4 separate regions of the Homo sapiens genome follow, and all the other regions are linked to region 1. Evidence: fine-mapped expression QTL. A gene starts in region 1. Each other region holds a variant in brackets. All regions are shown on one strand. Distances are between the middles of the regions. Region 1 holds the start of DNAH11 (dynein axonemal heavy chain 11). Region 2 overlaps DNAH11 (dynein axonemal heavy chain 11). Region 3 overlaps DNAH11 (dynein axonemal heavy chain 11). Region 4 holds the start of LOC105375183 (a long non-coding RNA gene).

The links. PIP is the estimated chance that this variant, and not a neighbour inherited with it, causes the effect. A credible set is the group of variants that fine-mapping cannot tell apart.
Region 2: its variant is the best candidate, but not a certain one, in a credible set for the expression of DNAH11 in esophagus muscle (GTEx, PIP 0.84).
Region 3: its variant is the best candidate, but not a certain one, in a credible set for the expression of DNAH11 in aorta (GTEx, PIP 0.54).
Region 4: its variant is the best candidate, but not a certain one, in a credible set for the expression of DNAH11 in liver (GTEx, PIP 0.88).

Annotation. Positions count from the first base shown.
Region 1 is chr7:21,540,517-21,545,746 of GRCh38, forward strand. DNAH11 (dynein axonemal heavy chain 11) reads left to right here and starts at 2,523. Exons shown (of 82, transcript NM_001277115.2): 1 at 2,523-3,080; 2 at 4,490-4,633. The coding sequence starts at 2,730. RefSeq lists enhancers at 1,845-2,346, 4,679-5,230 and a silencer at 2,395-2,444.
Region 2 is chr7:21,590,545-21,595,544 of GRCh38, forward strand. It overlaps DNAH11 (dynein axonemal heavy chain 11), which reads left to right. Exons shown (of 82, transcript NM_001277115.2): 13 at 374-478; 14 at 641-1,033. Among named protein-coding and RNA genes, the nearest start is that of DNAH11, 50 kb to the left of the region's middle. The variant GA/G (reference allele first, on the strand shown) is at 3,026.
Region 3 is chr7:21,617,333-21,622,332 of GRCh38, forward strand. It overlaps DNAH11 (dynein axonemal heavy chain 11), which reads left to right. Exons shown (of 82, transcript NM_001277115.2): 23 at 287-445; 24 at 1,768-1,890; 25 at 2,624-2,746. Among named protein-coding and RNA genes, the nearest start is that of DNAH11, 77 kb to the left of the region's middle. The variant T/C (reference allele first, on the strand shown) is at 2,695.
Region 4 is chr7:21,571,947-21,576,946 of GRCh38, forward strand. It overlaps DNAH11 (dynein axonemal heavy chain 11), which reads left to right. Exons shown (of 82, transcript NM_001277115.2): 8 at 1-27. It overlaps LOC105375183 (a long non-coding RNA gene), which reads right to left and starts at 4,196. Exons shown (of 4, transcript XR_007060247.1): 1 at 4,136-4,196; 2 at 3,327-3,436; 3 at 1,380-1,490. The variant G/A (reference allele first, on the strand shown) is at 2,278.

The sequences.
Region 1 (5,230 bases):
CTATGATGTGGTGTATCATTTACTATTACCATACTATCACTACATAACAAACCTCACCACAACTATGTAGCTTAAAACCAATAATCATTCATTATTTTCATGCATCTGTGGGCTGACTGAGAGTAGATTGATCAAGACTAGCCTTCGCTGGACTTGCCTCTGAGCTACAAAAGTCGGGTCCAGGCTGGTTCCCTGCATTAGCAAGCTAACTAGGGATGTTCTTCTCAAGACAGTGGCAGAGGCACAAGAAGGCAAGCCTCACCATGCAAAGACATTCCAAGCATCTGTTTGCTACTACACTTGATCTTAGCCAAAAGAAGCGATGCCTCTGTTTGTTATGTCTGCCAATATCCTATGGACCAAAGCAAGTCACATGGCCAGCCACAACTTTAATAGCACAAAAAGGTATAAGCATACTCTTTTCATGAAGGTGGGGTTGGGGGAGAGATATTTGCTAAAAAATAGTCTCATCTACCATTTTTTTTTTCCTATTTCTGGTGAGGAAACTCAGGCACCTAGAAAATAGAAATGGAATGCAAATTCAGTTGGTATAGCTCCACTCTATTCAGTAGAAATCTAGCCTGTATCTCCAATATGAGGGTAGAAACTTAATCTGTTTTGTTTTCTGTTATATTTCCCAGCACCTAGAACAGTGCTTGGCACTTAGTAGGCATTCAGTAAAGATTTGTTAGACAAATGAATGAACTCAGCACAGCACATGGCACATAATTGGTACTTGATCAATGTTAGCTATTATTATTGAGAAAAAATACATAAAACTTGGGAACAAGGTAAAGCCATGTTCATTCACTGTCACATTGAAACACTGCTTCACCGGCCAATGAAAGGATTATTAATTATTTAGGGAAAAGTATCTTTTTTGGACTCATTAACTACTACTGATCGAAGTCTCAAACTCTGAAGTTACGTTTTTATTTACAGATTTTTGTTCAATACAGATGTAATTTATTTTGGAAAAACAAATTATTTTTTAAAAAACAAAGGATTATTTTGCCCTGTATGACATTAGTGAGTGTTGTTTTGAACCTAGCAAGCTGACTCATCCTGTCTTCCTCCAATGCTGCTAAATTTCTTTCTCGAACTGTCCTTGGAACTTACATCATTTTGTTGCTTTCCTCATTTATGAGTTAAATCAATCTTTGACATATCTTCATCTTATATTTCGAGTTACATAGTTAACTTTTTGGAAATTGCACTTTAAAGTTAGCATCATTTAAAAAATTTTCCTGCTAGATTTGAAAGTGGTTATTCACTTTCAATTTAATTCAACTATTATTTACAGAATTCCCGGTTTTCTAGGTTACAGGGATGTGAAGCTGGAATATAAGAGGGGAGAGAAGGAACTGGTGATTGCCAGCCTTGTATACCAGCAACTGGGAGCCCCAAAGATTATTATGGACAATATAAAGCAGCCTTGACAGGTTAGAAGTCATTATCAAAGTTTTCCAAGGCCCTGTGTTATTTCAAGATTCTGATCACATAACTGGAAACTTGTCGATGGTTTTCAGGGGCAGTTAATATCCTGCAAAGAAAAAAATTGTTGAAGCCTCATCTTCTGGAAATGTCTGTCAACATTCAGGTATTAAATGGATTATTGTGGGCAACAGTCCTTCAGTAGCCCCCATGGAAGGGGTGGGGATTGAAGACTTTAGTTTGAAATAAACAATTAACAAAGGAGACTTAAAAGTTTAGTTGAGGACTCCTCCTCAAAATTCTGGTTGCTTTAATAATTAGAATTTCCATAAGAGTCTCAACGAAAGCCACTAATGGACCGCAGTGAAATCCTATTTCAGTATCATGAAACTGTTTTTAATCTGAAGCTTTTTCTCTTTGACCTTTTTACTCTTGAATTAAATGATAAATCTATAGATTTTCGGAACATTTTGGAGATCACGAAAGGGCACTGTGCGTTCTCTTACTGGGTGTACTGAAGTTCCAGTAAGTTTCAGGTTGAGGATGGCAATCAGGAGGACTTCGAATACTTAGATCTTGGATTCCCACAACTAGGAAAGTTGAATTGCAGGACTGGCTCTCTTCTGGTAATATTTGGACACCTTGGGAAAGGTGAATAACAGCCTTCAACTTGGGCCCCGAAACTTCTCTGTTACTTATTTTTGTAACTTAGTTCCTTGCCCATAAAACAAAGACTGACCAGTCAGAGACTTGGCTTTCTACGGATTATGTCAACTAGTCAAGGTAAGAGATTAGCACGGACCTTGGCACAAGAGAGCATTGCTTCATCCAGAGCACTTAACCAATGCTGGGATCTCCACCAAGTGTCCAGTAGGCGAAGGAGCCGGAGGGCAGTGGAGCGAGCGCACTGGGGGCTCAGACCCACCCCGGACACGCGGCTTCTCGGCCGTGTTCGGGACCTAGAGCCCGAGGGCCTCTCCCCTCGGCCTTGGCCTTGGCGTATACTGGGCGGTGGCGCGGTGCGCTCACTCCGCCCCCAGCGGGCTGGGGCGGGGACACCGTCCCCCGGGAAACGGGACGCGCTGCTTGTCCCAGGCCTTCGCTTCGGCCTGCGAGGCTACAGCTGTGCGCAGTGGCGCGGCTGCTAAGTAGCAGCAGGTGGGAGACTAGGGTCTGCGCTCGCGGCGACCGCGGAGGAGGGTGGGCGCCTGCGGAGGTGTCCTCGCTCACTTCGGGGGGCCCAGAGTCTCGGGTGAGGAGCCAGCCGGCCTCGCGTTCCCTCGGACGGTTGCCCAATGGCAGCCCAGGTGGCAGCCCGGGAGGCGCGAGACTTCAGAGAAGCCCCGACCCTTCGCCTAACCTCGGGGGCCGGCCTGGAGGCAGTGGGCGCTGTGGAGCTCGAGGAGGAGGAGGAGAACGAGGAGGAGGCGGCGGCCAGGAGAGCGCGGAGTTTCGCCCAAGACGCGCGGGTGCGCTTCCTCGGCGGCCGCCTGGCGATGATGCTGGGGTTCACGGAGGAGAAATGGAGCCAGTATTTGGAAAGCGAGGACAACCGGCAGGTTCTTGGGGAGTTTCTGGAAAGCACCAGCCCGGCTTGCCTTGTGTTTAGCTTCGCCGCCTCGGGGCGCCTTGCGGCTTCCCAGGAGGTAAGAGGCGACGGGCAAGGGGACCTGCCCATCCAACAAAACTACCCAGGGGAGACAGCCCAGTCGCTCCCCTTTGGATTCCCGCGGGGCGCTCACTCGGGCACTTTAACAAACTTGGCTTGAAGTCCCCATCCTGAGGCCCGCAGGACTCCTCCCCACGTGCACCCACTCTGCAGTTCAGCAGCTGCAGGTTAGTTTCCTAAGTCAGCAGTTTGTATCTGACCGAGAATCCCGCGTTGAGCCTGTTCGACCAGGATAACCCAAGAACACCAGCGCTTTCTTTAGCTGCTTGGGTGTTAGGCGCCAGGTGGGCTTTCTGTGCCAAAAAACTTGCGTTTCAGTTGCTCTTGGGTCACTCTGGAGTCACATCCTTTAAAAAATGGGGTGTTTGGCAGAGCGCATGTAACTCGTCACGTATTTTGATTACGTGCCAACAACACTTCACCCCAGGCAAAAACATTAAGTCCTTAAAAAGGAAGGCCCCTGCAATCTCCGCACACATGGGTGTTTACTGAACATTTAGAGGGAACAGTTCCCTCCTTTCTTCTTTTTCTTCCTTTTCTTTTTGAATTTCGATGATTTGTCCACTAAAAGGTTAACGTATCACCTAACGTACAGCACTTGTATTTAGTATTTTTCAAGTATGATGAGTTTGGAGCAAGATTCACAATTTTTAAGTAGCGCAATGCTCAGTTTAACATGTTATGTCGTTTTATCACTAGGTGTGGTCATTGTAATAGTTGGGAAATAGGATCTCAGAGAAGAAAGAGTAATAGGAAGGCTGCCTTATGGTATTGTGAATTTTGAATTCTTTTGTTTTAGGACTCTCCTAATTGTAACTTTAAAAAAAATAAGTTTGTCAGTAGACAAGGCGATAGAACACAACTCTAGTATTACCTAAGTTAAATAGTTATTATAATGTTCAATGGAATGACTCAGTAGTTGTGGAAATGTTAGCATGTTTTGGTTATACGGTTCTATTCTTTGATAGAAATACAAATTAACCTCTTGGGCTTGTCTTTATCTCAGTTTGGCTTATTTCCAAACCAGAGAAGAGTATAAAAAATAACCCTTTAGGATTGAAACATTTCTACATGCCTACGTGCTCCTTATTTGTTTTTAGTTATAAGATTTTTTTTTTGGTGTATAATGAACTGGTATAATTGGCATGCCTTTAAAAGGTGATATTTCCACACCAGTAATGCTGTGAAATTAGCATTATAAAAGAACAAAGAAAACTGTATACTCGCTGCATACTAGGGAAGAGCCGTAGAAGGACCTTGTTTATAGGGCAGGCAAGATGCCAGGTTTTGTTTCTTCTGCTAGCAATACAGCTACAAGTTGGATATAGTAAATCCTGCTTGTTAACAAGAAAACTACTTGAACTAATTATCTTGCTCTTGTTTTAGATTCCAAGAGATGCAAACCATAAACTTGTTTTTATTTCCAAGAAGATTACTGAAAGCATTGGAGTAAATGACTTTTCTCAAGTGGTTTTATTTGGAGAGTTACCTGCGTTGTCTCTTGGACATGTATCTGCTTTCCTTGATGAGGTACTGGTCTGTCTTTAATATTTAAAGCTTTCACTTATCTCCATGACATTTGAAATTATTTAGGACAACTCCGATAATTAAAAAAAGAAGAGCTAGGAGGGGAAGGGAAGGGGATGGGGGTGGTTAAAAAAAAAAAAAAAAAAAAAAGCTTGTAGAAGCCAGGAGTCTCTAGCCAGGTGGATGGAGTCATAACATCTAGACTGTTCCTGAAAGGAGCTCATGCTTACTGATGCTAATATTCAACAGGTGGCAATTGCAGGGATCATTCTCTCCCTTTCTTCCTTCCAACACAATAGAAGCAAATAAAAAGCAACTTGAATAGGTTCTTGCACCTTAGCAGCAGGTTTTAAGCTTCACATTCAGAGTAGAGACAAATTTACACTTTGAAAATGAGTATTATCAGTTCCTTTTTATACTTGTTAGAAACTAACAGTTAAAGACTAAGATTCACTCATGGCAGATAATGGGAAAAGGTGATGAAAGTGTTAGAAATGGTTCTTAAACTTTCTTTTTCTCCTCTTAAAATAGAGAAATAGTCTTCAACCAATGTTACTGACACTTTAATGTGCATAAGAACTGCCTGGGGATTTTGTGAAA
Region 2 (5,000 bases), 50 kb after region 1:
TGCACCCAAATTCTGATCTGTTTCCCTAAAATATGTACAGAGAATAGTTGACTTTATTTTGCTAGTAAAACTCAGCACACATACCTAAATATATGACATAGTTAACTGAGGATTCGTTCTACTTTCTGATTTCATAAAACCAATTTATAGAAACTAATTTCTTGAGATGTTTAAGGATAATTCATATACCTTTACTATATTATGAATGTATGATTTTTGTTTTTAAAAAGTATATGAAACAAAAGTCTATTTACCTTGATTTGGAAATATAGTAATACTTGGATAACATCTTAAGTATTTCAAGTTAAACTTGAGTTAAAATAGAATGACATTATGAAAATATGCAATAATTTTAATAATTGTATTTTAATAGCTAGTGGCTGTATTGAGAGAAGTGAAATATCTTTTGATGTTGAAGAAACAAGACATACCAGATTCAGCTTTAGCCATCTTCAAGAAAAGGAACACTATTTTAAAGGTTTGTGATTTTTGTTAAAAAAAAGATACTAGGGCCTATTATGAATATAAATATTTTGAATTTTAATTATTATATAGATCTATATGATATTTTTACACCTTTAAGACAGAGAAAATAGCTAACATATTTGGCACTTTTTGTTTTGGGGTTTTCTTTGCTCAGTACATTGGAAATCTTGACCTTCTTGTGCAAGGGTATAATAAACTCAAACAGACGCTCCTGGAAGTTGAATACCCTCTGATTGAAGATGAGCTGAGGGCTATTGACGAGCAGCTGACAGCAGCCACAACGTGGCTGACATGGCAGGATGACTGCTGGGGCTACATCGAGAGGGTGAGGGCAGCCACGTCCGAGTTGGAGCACAGAGTTGAGCGCACACAGAAAAACGTGAAGGTGATCCAGCAGACCATGAGGGGCTGGGCCAGGTGCGTGCTACCTCCCAGGAGAGAGCACAGACGAGAGGCAGCCTTCACCTTGGAGGACAAGGGTGATTTGTTTACAAAAAAATACAAGTTAATCCAAGGAGATGGCTGCAAGATCCACAACTTGGTCGAGGTAATGGCTTTTAACCTTTCAAGATTTATAGATCTTTTCATTGAGTTCAGAGAAGAGCAAAAATCTTTAACCTAATAATGTGGGACTCTTTTATCAAGCCTGAAAGAGCTTTATGAATGGTATTATTAGGCATTTAAAGTGGAGGAATTTGTGTTACTTGCCTGCAATTTCTGTAGCCCTCACCACTGTCATTCCTGAGGGAAGAGATTAGAATGTGAGATGTGTTGATTAAACAGAAAGGCTAGTGATAGAATCTTTATCTTGTCACAGTTGCATCCTCTTTTGGATGCTCCTTATAGCTACCACTGTTTGTTGACTGCCTCGTATGTGCCAAACAAACAACTTCCTTAGGTCATCTCAAGGTACCCTCTCAACCATCTCCTAAGGGTGGCAACAATAATTACTCTCCTTTTAACAAAGATTTGAGTTCCTAAAACAGTAACAGGCACTCATCTAGGCTTGTGAATGCAAGAGAAAACAGAAAAAAAACACACACACACACACAAAAGGCAGAAGGCAGGAAAATAAAAGCAAACAACACAATGCTCCCCTGCCAACCACCACCAAATCCTTTATTTCATGGAGCTTACACTCTAGTCAGAGGAAGTTAGCAAGAGAAAAGAACAAATAGATATGTCAGTTGTAATAGGAGCAATGATGAAAAATAGAGCAGAGCAGGTGGGATAGGGAGTCGCTTGCGGGTAGGGTGGTTGGGCAGGCCTCTTTCCTAAGATAGTATTTCTGCAGAGAACTGACAGGGAACAAAGCATATGGATATCAGGAGAAGAACATTCTGGAGAGCAAAAGTATAGACACTTTGAGGCAGGAGCAGCCTGGCCTGTTCCAGGATCAGTCAGCAAACTGAGATCAGAATTTGCAAGGGGAGTGGTAGTAGAGGGTGAGGTAGAAGAGACTAATGGTACATTATGTGGGGTTAGCAGGCTGTTATGAGGACTTTGGATTTTACCGTAAGGGGAAAGAGCAGCCAGAGACTTTCTGCTCAAAGGCTTTCCCTGTGGAGGGTAAGCCACAGGCAAGCAAAGAAGTGGTTGGCAGGGAGACTCTTCAGAGCCTATGCTAATAATCCAGGTGAGAAATGATGCTGCCTTGGGTCATAGTGCTAGTGATCAAGGCAGTTCATATCCTGCAGATATTTTGATGGCAGAGCCAGCAGAATTTGCTTTGAGGAATCAGAGGAGAGAGAAGTCAAGGATGATTTCAAGGTTTTTGGTCTGAGTGATTGGACTGGACTGGGGTTGCCCTTTAATGATATGAGGAAGACTGTGGTGAGCAGATTTTGTAGCAGAAAAAAAAAGGAGGTTTGGTTTTGGACAAGTTAGTTAGAGATGCTTGTCCTAAGGGACATTTTGAGTAGACTAGAATTGCAAATGTGTCTTGTGTTCAGGGCAAAATCCAGGTAAGTAACAGAGAATTGAGATTTATGCACATATGTATGGTATTTAGAGCCATATAATTAGATTAAGAACATGTGGGAATTGTAGATAGAAAAGAGGCCCAAAAACTAGCCTCGAAGTCCTCCCTAGGTCAGGGAGAAGAGGAAAATCCCACAGAGGATACTGAAAAAGAGAGAGTGATGCCCTGGAAACCAATAATAGAAGGGATTTCAAGGAGGAGGAAGAGCTCAACTCTGTCCCATCCTGACGTAGGACCTGAAAATAAAGACGGAGGCTAACCCTCAGATCTGGCAGCACGGAAGTCATTGGGATGAGGAGAGGTGATTTCATGTGGTGGCAGAGTGGAAGCTTGGTGGGAGTGGGCTGATGAGAGAATGGGGAAATATGAGTGGAGGCAGCTGAGGAGATCCTGAGGAGCTCTGCTGTGTGGCAAACCAACAACTGGGCAGTACCTGGGGCCTGTGTATCAGGGTGGGGAGGGTTTTATTTTTAATAGTGGTTGATGTTTCAGGATGTTTGTATGTTAACTGCAGTAATCTAGGAAGGAGAAAAAATTGTTGGAAGAAAGCCATTGAGG[GA/G]AATGGGATTTAGTAAATACCTGTAGAAGGTGTCTTTAGACAGGAGCGCGGAGCATTCATCTGTAGTACAGGATGGAGGGAAGGCAAAGATAGGAATGTGGTGCTCACAGATGTGCAATGCTGATGATGGGAACATGGGGAGTTGATTTCTTGTTGTTACTATTTCTTAAGGAAAAAAGGGATAGGAATGAAAGAGCGTATTTCATGTTTCCTCTGAGCATCCTTGTTATGTGGAGTCTTCTCTATAGACCAGCACAGTCCTTAATCCATGAATACTCTCCTTTGGGCAAGGCAGACAGACCCCCTCCCCTGCCCCTGCTCCCCCCAGACACAAAATCTCTCTCTCTCTAACACACACACACTCTCTTTCACACACACATACTCTTTTTCTCTGTATGTCACATACTCTCACACACAGTCTCTTCCTCTCACATATCACACACACACTCACACACACTCTTTCTCCCTCATGCACACTCTTTCATACACACATACACACACACACACACACACACACACACACACACACTCTGAAGCCATCATGAAGTAGCACAGTGTGGGGTAGGGAAAGTGTCCTTGGTAAAGGCTGGAAACCAGAGTCTTCCAGAGGCTGGGCCTGAATTTTCTCATGTGTAAAATGAAGGTCCTTGTCTCTAGGATAATTCTCAGCAGAACAAGAAATAGATTACGGTTTTCCTGCTGGGAATTGTATGCAACCCATTATGTATCTTGTCTTTGCAGTCCATCATCATTCACTTATTTGAGAAATATTTATTGTGAGCATTGTGTGTACCCAGCACCTTTCTAGGTTTTTGAAATATGAGAGCAGAGCAGACAAAGTTCCTTGCTCTCATGGAACTTGAATCAAGTGAGGAGAGAGACAATAAGCAGTGACATAGTAAGTCGTGCTGTGTTAGAACTGGTACGCGCTGCAGGAAAAAGATCAAATTGGAGCAGGGCAAGGGAATTCTGGAGGGTGGGGTCGAGGATGCAGTTTTAAGTAGGATGATCAGAGTAGGCCTCAACCAGAAGGTGAAATTTGAACAAAGACTTGACAGAGGTGATAGAGTCAGCCAAGTGGGCCTTTGGTGAAGAGTGTTCCAGGCAGAGGAGATAGTTTTGGGGCAGGAGATCCCTGGGCATGCTCGAGGAGGAGCAGGGAAGTAAGTGTGGGGGGAGTAGAGGGAGCTGAGTGGAGAGTTGCTGAGGTGAGGTCAGACGCTAAGCTGCGTGGTGAGGGACTGGCAGCTCAGGGGAGGCTTCATAGGCCTTTTTGCAGATTCTGGCTTTGGCTCACTCTGAGGTATGTGAAAGACACTGCAGAATTTTGAGATTTTGAGAAGGGGAGTAAATACAATCTGACTTTCATTCTAAAAGGATTTCTGGCTGTTGTGTTGAGACCCTCTGTAGGGAGGCTAGGGAAGAGGCAGGCCGACCTGGTAGGTTGCCATTCTTACTAGTAATCTAGGGGTTCCGTATGTTCAGGCTGATATAGCAAAATACTCTAAACTGAGTAGCTTTAAAACAGCAGAAATGGTTATCTCATAGTTCTGGAGGACCAGGTGCCAGCATGATCAGTTTCTGGCAAGGCCCCTCTTCTAGGTTGCAGACTGCCAACTTCTCATTGTGTCCTCACATGGAGGAAGTTCCCCTGGGCCTGTTTCATATAGGCAGTACTTTCATTCATGAAGGCTCTGCCCTCAGGACCTAATCACCTCCTCCTAAACCCCTCCTCATAATACCATCCCCTTGGGGGTTGGGATTTTCACATTCAAATTTTGGGAGGACATAAGCATTCAGACAGTGGCACAGGCACGTAACAGATGATGGTGCTGGACCAGGGTGGTAGCAGTGAAAGTGATTAGAAGTAGTTGGATTCTGGATATATTTTGAATTAAGTGGAGCAAACAGAGTTTCCCAAAGACTGGATGTGGAGCACGAAAGAAAGACACGTTAAAGATTATTCTACACATT
Region 3 (5,000 bases), 77 kb after region 1:
TGTCCTGTGAACTCTGTTACTTACCTGTGTTTCCTCATGGGACATTCAGTTAGATCTTGTGAATGAGAAAGCAGTGTATACAAGTGGCTTGTACGGAGTGGGCTTGTAATGTACAAATGAGTGGATCCCTTTTCGTTTCTCTGGTTTTGCTCCTTGGTCTAGGAGTTCAAATGCTTTCACTCTTTTCTAATCCAGGAGTTGGGAAATATATGTCAAAGGAGGCAAATTATTAATATATACTGTGTTATATCTTGGGAGCTAGGTTTTTTCCTCCACTTTTCTTTAGGAAATTTGGTCACTCAACAAGGAAGTCCGCGTCTGGGATGCTTACACGGGCCTGGAAGGCACAGTTAAGGACATGACAGCCTCCCTGAGGGCCATCACAGAGTTACAGAGCCCTGCCCTCAGGGACAGGCATTGGCACCAGCTGATGAAAGCTATTGGGGTCAGTATCCTTGGTCTCACTAATGAACCTTTTTATGACTGTGAAGTGTTACTTCTTGGTTTGCATCATCTGAGATGAAGTGTAATTTATGAAAAGACCCCCCTCAGCATAGCCTCTACTTGCTGTGTTATGCCTTTTTGCTGTCTAGAAAAAGTCGCCTGATCCGACCAACAATTTAGAAAAAGGCACCCTCCTCCAGGCTGTCCCCAGGACAGCAGAGCGGAGGCTGGCTTCCATCTCCATTTGTCATCTGGGCTGGTGTCCACGTTCAGTACACAGATTGCACAACTAATCAGGGTGGCCCTATTACTCATCTCTCCTCATTCTTTCTCAAGGACAGACCTAGCTCCCTGGCTCCCAGCAACTCTGGAGTGAGGCCAAAGTTGACACAGAGATAGTCTGGCAAACTCATCTAGCTTTCTCAGGACTTTCCAGATTTTAGCACTGAAAGTATCACATCCCTGAAATCCACTTGCTAGAAACCCCTCAGTCCGGAGCAAATCAGGGCATTTGGTCCTCTTATGCAGAGGCGTGGATGGTGCTAAGGAATGTTAGAGGGTAGGGAGGGGCAGAGGGTGGCAGCTTCCAAGAAGCAGATTCTGGATATTCTTAGCAAAAGCCGGAAAGAAAATGGCTTTCCTGCAACCCATATGGCTGGCTCAACTCTTCACTTACAGGAGACATGAGTGAGTTTGGGTATGTCGAAGAGCTGAGGATGTCTCAAGGACCCAATATAGGGGAGGGAAGGAGAGTCAATGTGAGAGAAGGGGAGTCATTGTCACAAGACAATGTGGAAATGAGAATTATTTTTCACATGGTAAATATGAATAATGACACTGTAAGACTATTTTTTTTGCCAATGAACTGAGATTAAATTAGTGATAAAACTAGGTTAAATCACAGAAGCAGCTGGGAATTATGTTCAGTGAATAGGGTTCTTTAGGAAGAAAAGACAAATGAGCCACTACCTGATTCCTGGGATTTCAACCAAATTATAATAAATGAACAATGAGATTCTCTTTAAAAATGGGTTTTGTGGGCAAAGGAGATAAGAAACGTGCCGACAAGGGAAAGATGTGAAACAAAGAAAATAGTGTAGCACGGATGTGACTAAACTGTGGCCCTTGCTTCCGGCAGGTGACGCCTCAGGAATTGTGAGTTAAAAAGGAGTGTCTTAGATTCTCCACGTATTTCAAGACGAGAGATGTACTCAGCACCTGACTTGAGTATATTTTAGTTAAGATTCATTTCACCAGCCTTTAGGCAAAAGGAACCGTTCATATATGTGGAATATAAAGTCTAACTTTTTTTCCCCCAATCAGGTCAAGTTTTTAATAAATGAAGCCACAACTTTGGCAGATTTGTTAGCACTGCGGTTACACAGAGTGGAAGATGATGTCCGAAGGATTGTGGACAAGGCGGTGAAAGAGCTGGGGACTGAGAAGGTAGTGTCCTCGGGACTGGGTCATTTCTACTTGGCTAATTTTGGGTATTTGCATAGAAGCCAACTTAGAGAAAAGTCCTTTTGATGTCCTGGGAGCCTGGAGAGATGAGTCCCAGTTTGTTCCCTGCTGTTCATTAGGTGTGGGATGAGCAGGAACTAGAATCATTCTAAGCCACAGTAAAACAGGAGGATTGGTCTTGTTGATGATGATGATTATAGCAGAAAATACTTACATATCCTTTATTTTGTAGCCAACACCACTCTGAGTGCTTTATTTATATTAACCCATTTAATCTTCTGAGGTAAGTAATAGTATCTCTATTTTACACATGGGGAAACTGAGGTATAAAGAGATAATTAACTTACCCAGATTCACACAGAAGACTGAGATTCATTCACATTTGAGGCATTACCTGTTTCATGCTGGCTAATTTGTAAATAGTATCTACCAAACATTTAAGTCCCTTCCTGCTCTTGAATTGTGTTTTGGTTAGGGATGATAAACTCACATTCAGTAGAAGTTTGATGTTAGTGTGATGCTCATACCTTTGATGTGATAAAATTCATTCTTCAAACCCCATTAGCATGAATTACTTGGAGGAAAAAACTCAAGCCAATAATACTTGATATCAGTTTGCATTTTTGAAAGTTGAAAAAAATTAATTCCAGATAATAGTCTACATATTGATTATCAATTAAATTTTGTGCACATTAATTATATTGTTGATTACTAGGTTATTACTGAAATCAGTCAGACCTGGGCAACCATGAAGTTTTCTTACGAAGTTCACTATCGAACAGGCAT[T/C]CCATTACTAAAGTCTGATGAACAACTTTTTGAAACTCTAGAGCACAACCAAGTAAGATGGATATTTTTATTGCATATATTTTTCATTTTATTTTTATTTGACAAATAATTGTATATATAGGGTACCATGTGATGTTTTGATGTATGTTTACAATGTGGAAAGATTAAATCAGGCTAACCGTCATCTCATACACTTAACATTTTTTTTGTGGTGAATCACTTAAAATCTCCTTTAGGAATTTTGAAACATACAATGCATTATTATTTATTGTAGTCACCAACTGTGCAATAGATCACTAAAGCTTATTCCTCCTGTCTAACTGAAAATTTGTACCCTTTGATCAACAGCTCCTCTTGCCCCCTCCCCCCGGCTCTGGTAACCATCATTCTACTCTCTGTTTCTATGAGTTCAACTTTTTTAGATTCCACGTGTAGATGGCATCGTACAATATTTGTCTTTTTGTTCCTGGCTTATTTTGCTTAGCACTGTCCTTTAGGGTCATCCATGTTGTTGCAAACCAGGATTTTATTCTTTTTTTTAAATTTTACTATTATACTTTAAGTTTTAGGGTACACGCGCACAATGTGCAGGTTAGTTACATATGTATACATGTGCCATGCTGGTGTGCTGCACCCATTAACTCGTCATTTAGCATTAGGTATATCTCCTAAAGCTATCCCTCCCCCCTCCCCCCACCCCACAACAGTCCCCAGAGTGTGATGTTCCCCTTCCTGTGTCCATGTGTTCTCATTGTTCAATTCCCACCTATGAGTGAGAATATGCGGTGTTTGGTTTTTTGTTCTTGTGATAGTTTACTGAGAATGATGATTTCCAATTTCATCCATGTCCCTACAAAGGACATGAACTCATCATTTTTTATGGCTGCATAGTATTCCATGGTGTATCTGTGCCACATTTGCTTAATCCAGTCTATCCTCGTTGGACATTTGGGTTGGTTCCAAGTCTTTGCTGTTGTGAATAGTGCCACAATAAACATACGTGTGCATGTGTCTTTATAGCAGCATGATTTATAATCCTTTGGGTGTATACCCAGTAATGGGATGGCTGGGTCAAATGGTATTTCTAGTTCTAGATCCCTGAGGAATCGCCACACTGACTTCCACAAGAGTTGAATACAAACTACCATCAGAGAATACTACAAACACCTCTATGCAAATAAACTAGAAAATCTAGAAGAAATGGATAAATTCCTCGACACATACACCCTCCCAAGACTAAACCAGGAAGAAGTTGACTCTCTGAATAGACCAATAACAGGCTCCGAAATTGTGGCAATAATCAATAGCTTACCAACCAAAAAGAGTCCAGGACCAGATGGATTCACAGCCGAATTCTACCAGAGGTACAAGGAGGAACTGGTACCATTCCTTCTGAAACTATTCCAATCAATAGAAAAAGAGGAAATCCTCCCTAACTCATTTTATGAGGCCAGCATCATCCTGATACCAAAGCCGGGCAGAGACACAACCAAAAAAGAGAATTTTAGACCAATATCCTTGATGAACATTGATGCAAAAATCCTCAGTAAAATACTGGCAAACTGAATCCAGCAGCACATCAAAAAGCTTATCCACCAGGATCAAGTGGGCTTCATCCCTGGGATGCAAGGCTGGTTCAATACACACAAATCAATAAATGTAATCCAGCATATAAACAGAACCAAAGACAAAAACCACATGATTATCTCAATAGATGCAGAAAAGGCCTTTGACAAAATTCAACAACCTTCATGCTAAAACTCAATAAATTAGGTATTGATGGGACGTATCTCAAAATAATAAGAGCTATCTATGACAAACCCACAGCCAATATCATACTGAATGGGCGAAAACTGGAAGCATTCCCTTTGAAAACTGGCACGAGACAGGGATGCCCTCTCTCACCACTCCTATTCAACATAGTGTTGGAAGTTCTGACCAGGGCATTTTGGCAGGAGAAGGAAATAAAGGGTATTCAATTAGGAAAAGAGGAAGTCAAATTGTCCCTGTTTGCAGATGACATGATTGTATATCTAGAAAACCCCATTGTCTCAGCCCAAAATCTCCTTAAGCTGATAAGCAACTTCAGCAAAGTCTCAGGATACAAAATCAACGTACAAAAATCACAAGCATTCTTATACACCAATAACAGACAAACAGAGAGCCAAATCCTGAGTGAACTCCCATTCACAATTGCTTCAAAGAGAATAAAATACCTAGGAATCCAACTTACAAGGGATGTGAAGGACCTCTTCAAGGAGAACTACAAACCACTGCTCAATGAAATAAAAGAGGATACAAAGAAA
Region 4 (5,000 bases), 31 kb after region 1:
TATGACCCATCTGATTGCACTAACATGGTAATGTTGTACCTTTGCATTTTCATTGCATGGGATCCTATAATTTTATAGCTGAAAAGGAAGATAGGTCACAGTGATAATAGGGACCATCCATTCCAATATCTCTAGGACCAAAAGAGGTTACATGACTTGCCTGAAGTCTTGTAGCTACTTAGTTAGTAGATCAGGGATCAGAACTTAAGCTTTTGCATTTTCAGTTCAGAATGACGGCTGATAAAACTGCAGACCTCAGTCTGGATTTGTATCTTGTTTGTGTATGCTAAACAGAAACTTTCCACATGAATTCATTTTGATCTGATGTCCATGTAACTCGTGCTTTATTTTAGCATTTTCTTGAATCACTGGATGTTTTGTTTTTTGATTCACCTGAACACTTGCTTTCACCCCAGTCATTAAGTGTATCATTTACATGTTGGTTGTTTCTTATAATTTTTGTTATTCTTGAGAGCTGATTATAATTTCATATTTCCAACCACAGGAAAGGGGGAACCTTTCTGATTTAAGCTGCTTCTGTGCTCTGTCAGTTCCAGCATGTTAGTAGCCAGGGAGCTACCTGTGAGCATCCCTGCAGTTCTAGGATAAAAATAGCTTCATTTTAGTAGTTTGCCAAGAACAGCGAAGCCCAAGTCCAAAAGAATGAAGATTTAGCTCTTGTTCTTATTATTGTATATGTAATGTGAGTTTATTCACTATTGTTTATATTTGGCCAAACAATTGATTCTTTGAAGTGTACGAGTGCAGTATGTTAGCTTTATAAGGATGTAGTTAGCAAACTTAAGCCCTCTGAATTATAGTCAGTTTTGGAAAGTGGAGTTAATGGTAGAAGGACACTGCTGTAATAGGTGACTTTTTGCTAAACCAGGGCACTACACTTTGTGAAAAAGTATGAGGAACCTAGGATCATGGTGATGAATAATTTGAGTGAGCTCATCCCCAAAGCCTTGTAAGATGCCTGGCACTTGGAAGGCATTCAATAAATACGTACAGAATGGGATTCTTAAGAGAGCCTCTAGGTTAGCGCCGCTGAACGAGCTAGTGGAGGAGGAGTGTGAGACTGAGCCTGCACAAGATCCTTGGGGACATTTGGATTGCAAGAGAGTCTTGATTTTGTTATAATTACAAAAACTGGCAAGTTTTCAGAGTGCCAGAATTAGAGAATGTGGCCAGGTTTAATTGACGTCACTACCTTGGCCATGCCAAAGGTCCTGATTTTACTCCTGTCTCTGCCTAAAGCCTGCATAGTCACAAACATGTAGGAATAGAAAATTCATTTACTCTTGAGGTATATATCTGCTTGGTATTTGTATTTTGGAAGCCTATTCTATTTTGCAGATAAGGTGGGCAGGGTTTACCTCTGATCTTCGGTCTGGTTGGAGACATCATAACCTTCCCCTGAAGTTCCCTTCATCCTCCTGTCTGATTCTTGCCTTAGAATCTAGAAGCTCCTTGACTTTGGTCATTCCCTAAAATTAAAACATGAATTAACTAAAAGTTAACTTAATCAGCATACTTATGTTGAAAATGACCATTACTTTTTTAAAAAAATGTGTTTTGCCTATCATTATTACTTTAAAATATTGCATTTATCATATATTTTTGCTTAATAAGCTGTTCATTTTGGTGCTTTTTAGCTGAGTTCCTTGTACTTTGACTTCATGATGAAATCAGTTGGTAGTTTTTGAGACATTATTTTAACAAATGACTTCCAACCTAGTGTATGCATATATTTGCATGTACATATGAATACATGCCCAACCTCTGCCCTTCCCCTCCCATTGCATTCACCCCCATGTTCCTGCTCCTGCCCCATCCCCTCTGACTACAAACTAGTGCTTATATAACAGGGAAGTGTGTCAGGGTCAGCCATTCTGCCCTTTGGTATATACATGGTTTAAATATGTTCCAGTAAATTAAAGAAATGATCACTGGTAATTTGCTTTTTGAAATGCTGTTGTTTATTTCTCTTCTCATCAATCTCATGCCTACTAATCAGGCTTTGAGCCTTTATTGGCGTACCGAAAGGTTTGCTGCCGTGGTCCATTTACAGAATGTGGGGATTTTATCAGGTGTGCCCATAAAAATGGTTTTGGGTTTCTCAATTATTGAATGTTACTTTAGGTGTTTTCTTTGACATCTTCTTAGGGGACTGTTTGAAATCTAGACAGTTATGGGAAGAGACTTGCTTTCTTCATTATTAATGTTGAACAGTTAGTCCAGCAATATTAGACTCAGTAATTTTGCTGTCTTTCT[G/A]TGGTGTTTCTTGATGAAATCCCTCAGATACCTAAGCAAAGATGGTAGCTATTCTTGTTGAGGGTAACCCCTTGGCTCCACTTAGTCTCTGTTAATGAGAGCCAGTTAATATTTATGGACGAAGTACTGGATGCCAGGCGTTGTGCCAGAGATTTCCCACATTATATACCTGCTTAATTTTCACTATAACCCAGAGAGTGGTCCCGCAGGCAAATGACAGTTTCACTAAATTACCTGAGATTATAGTTTCCAGTTGGTGGAATGGAAGTTTGAATCCAGAACTCTCAACCACAAGCCCTGCATACTTTTGTTTTCCCTCCCTCCCTCCCTCCCTTCCTTCCTTTTTTTTTTTTTTTTTAAGACAGAGTCTCACTCTGTCGCCCAGGCTGGAGTGCAATGGTGCGATCTTAGCTCACTGCAACCTCTGCCTCCTGGCTTCAAGTGATTCTTCTGCCTCAGCCTCCTGAGTAGCTGGGATTACAGGGGCACACCACCACGCCCAGGTAATTTTTTTGTACTTTTAGTAGAGATGGGGTTTCGCCATGTTGGCCGGGTTGGTCTCAAACTCCCGACCTCAGATGATCCACCCTCCTTGGCCTCCCAAAGTGCTGAGGAGATTACAGGCGTGAGCCACTGCACTGGGCTTTTTTTTTTTTTTTTTTTTTTTTTTTGAGACAGTTTCACTCTGTCACCCAAGTTGGAGTGCAGTGGCATGATCTCAGCTCACTGCAACCTCTGCCTCCCAGGTTCAAGTGATTCTCCTGCCTCAGCCTTCTGAGTAGCTGGGATTACAGGAGTGTGCCACCATGCCCAACTAACTTTTGTATTTTTAATAGAGATGGGGTTTTCCACCATGTTGGCCAGGCTGGTCTTAAACTCCTGGCCTCAAGTGATCCACCTGCCTCGGCCTCCAAAAGTGCTGGGATTACAGGCATGAGCCACCATGCCCAGCCCCTGCATTCTTTTCACTGCACCACCCTGTTAGTATTTATCTTGCTTGTTGCATCCTCATTGAAATGAAAGGAATAAGTTCATCTGTGGGAACTCACCTGAGGACCTATGGCCTGAGATGGAGTGATCCAGGTTGCTGTGTCTGCTTTTCTGCTGATTTTCAGTGGGAAGCTTTATTCAGGTGCCTTGTTCACCATGATATCAGAATCTAAAATACATTTTAAAAGTAGTTATTTAGTTCATCTGTACTAGGTTGTATTCTAATTCCTAGAACGAGTCTATTGTTCTGCTGTCACTCACTGAACTATTCTTTTGCTATTTATGTAGTGTTTTCTCATTTTAATTAAACAGATTTCATCTTTATTAGTCATACACAGCATTTTCATGTTTTGCCTGCCTATTATTCAAGATTAAATGAGTTATTTAGCAACCTTCCTTAGTAATTCTTTTGGAAAGGTAACATCTGTAAAAACTTAGTCCCTTTCTTCTCACCCTATGGCCTTTTCCCTAGTCTTCCATTTTTCCTCCCCAAAGGCATCTCTATTAAAAATTTCTTATATGATGTTCCAGAGATATTTGGTGCATGCACTGGCATATACATATATTTATTCCTTTGTTTTCTGCTTTTGCATTAATAGCATTTATACCTTGCTTTTATCCCTTACTATATTTTGGCAGTCATTCTGTGTCACTACAATAGCATTGCTCATCTTAAAACAACTGCGCATTCCATCAGATTTATATACTAAAGTTTATCTTATTTATTTTAAAATGTCATTTAGTAGATATCATTGTTTAAAATTTTAATGAGAAACTTCTGCTTCTGGAAAGAGGGAGATGTACTTTTCCCTACTGCTCCCAGTAAGTGCAACTAAAACACTGGCCGTTATACAGTAGCATGGCTCACCTGTCACCGAGACTCCTCTAGATCTTGTTGCTGCTGAGTATCCTACCTGCCAGCGATGGAGATTGACTCTGAGGCTCCACCATGGTATTATCCCTTGAGGAGACCAAACAGCTGCTTGGCAGGAAGTTAATTACCCAAGAAGGACAGCGATTCATCTTGTACAGGATTGATACATATTCCAAGGTTGTGTCTTCCTTGCCTGCCTGAAAGGCCTCAGCAAGCACGGCGGCCACAAACAACCCTTGAAAATGTCTATTGCAGGAAGCCCAGAAAGGAAGCACCAAGTTGGTTTAAGGGACTGTTCTTGGGGTTGTAGGGGAGAGGAGATAAAAGGAAGCCAAGATCTGAGATCCCAGAAGATCTTAATACTGACTCAAGACTCTCTTGAAAGATGTAAACTCTGATAGAGGGTATGGATAATATGTTTGATCCTTTCTAGGGCTTAAGCCAAGACCCTATCAAGCAAGTAAGTGGGAGATTGTGCTTATAAACAGCTCTTTTGAAGTAAGACAGATGTTCTCCTTGCTTCTCAGAATATTTTAGGCCAAAGCATTTTGTGGGCATAAATTAGCCTAATATCAGTGTCAATGCTGTATTTCAGCTTACTCGTGAAGACCTGGTCTTTGTGCTGTAAGCAATTAAGAAAGACAGAATTCTTAAGTGTATTTCAAGGAAATGTAAAAACAAAGTGTTCAATGCACACTTATGTATATATATTATGATGTTTATAACAAAAGTGTGAAAACACACATGGGAAAGATTGAAACTTACTTTGGGGTAGTGGTTTTCTGGGCAGGCAGAAAGAGAAATGTGTCTATGTGTGTTACTACTTATTTCTGAAATAAAATAACAGTATCTGAGAAAA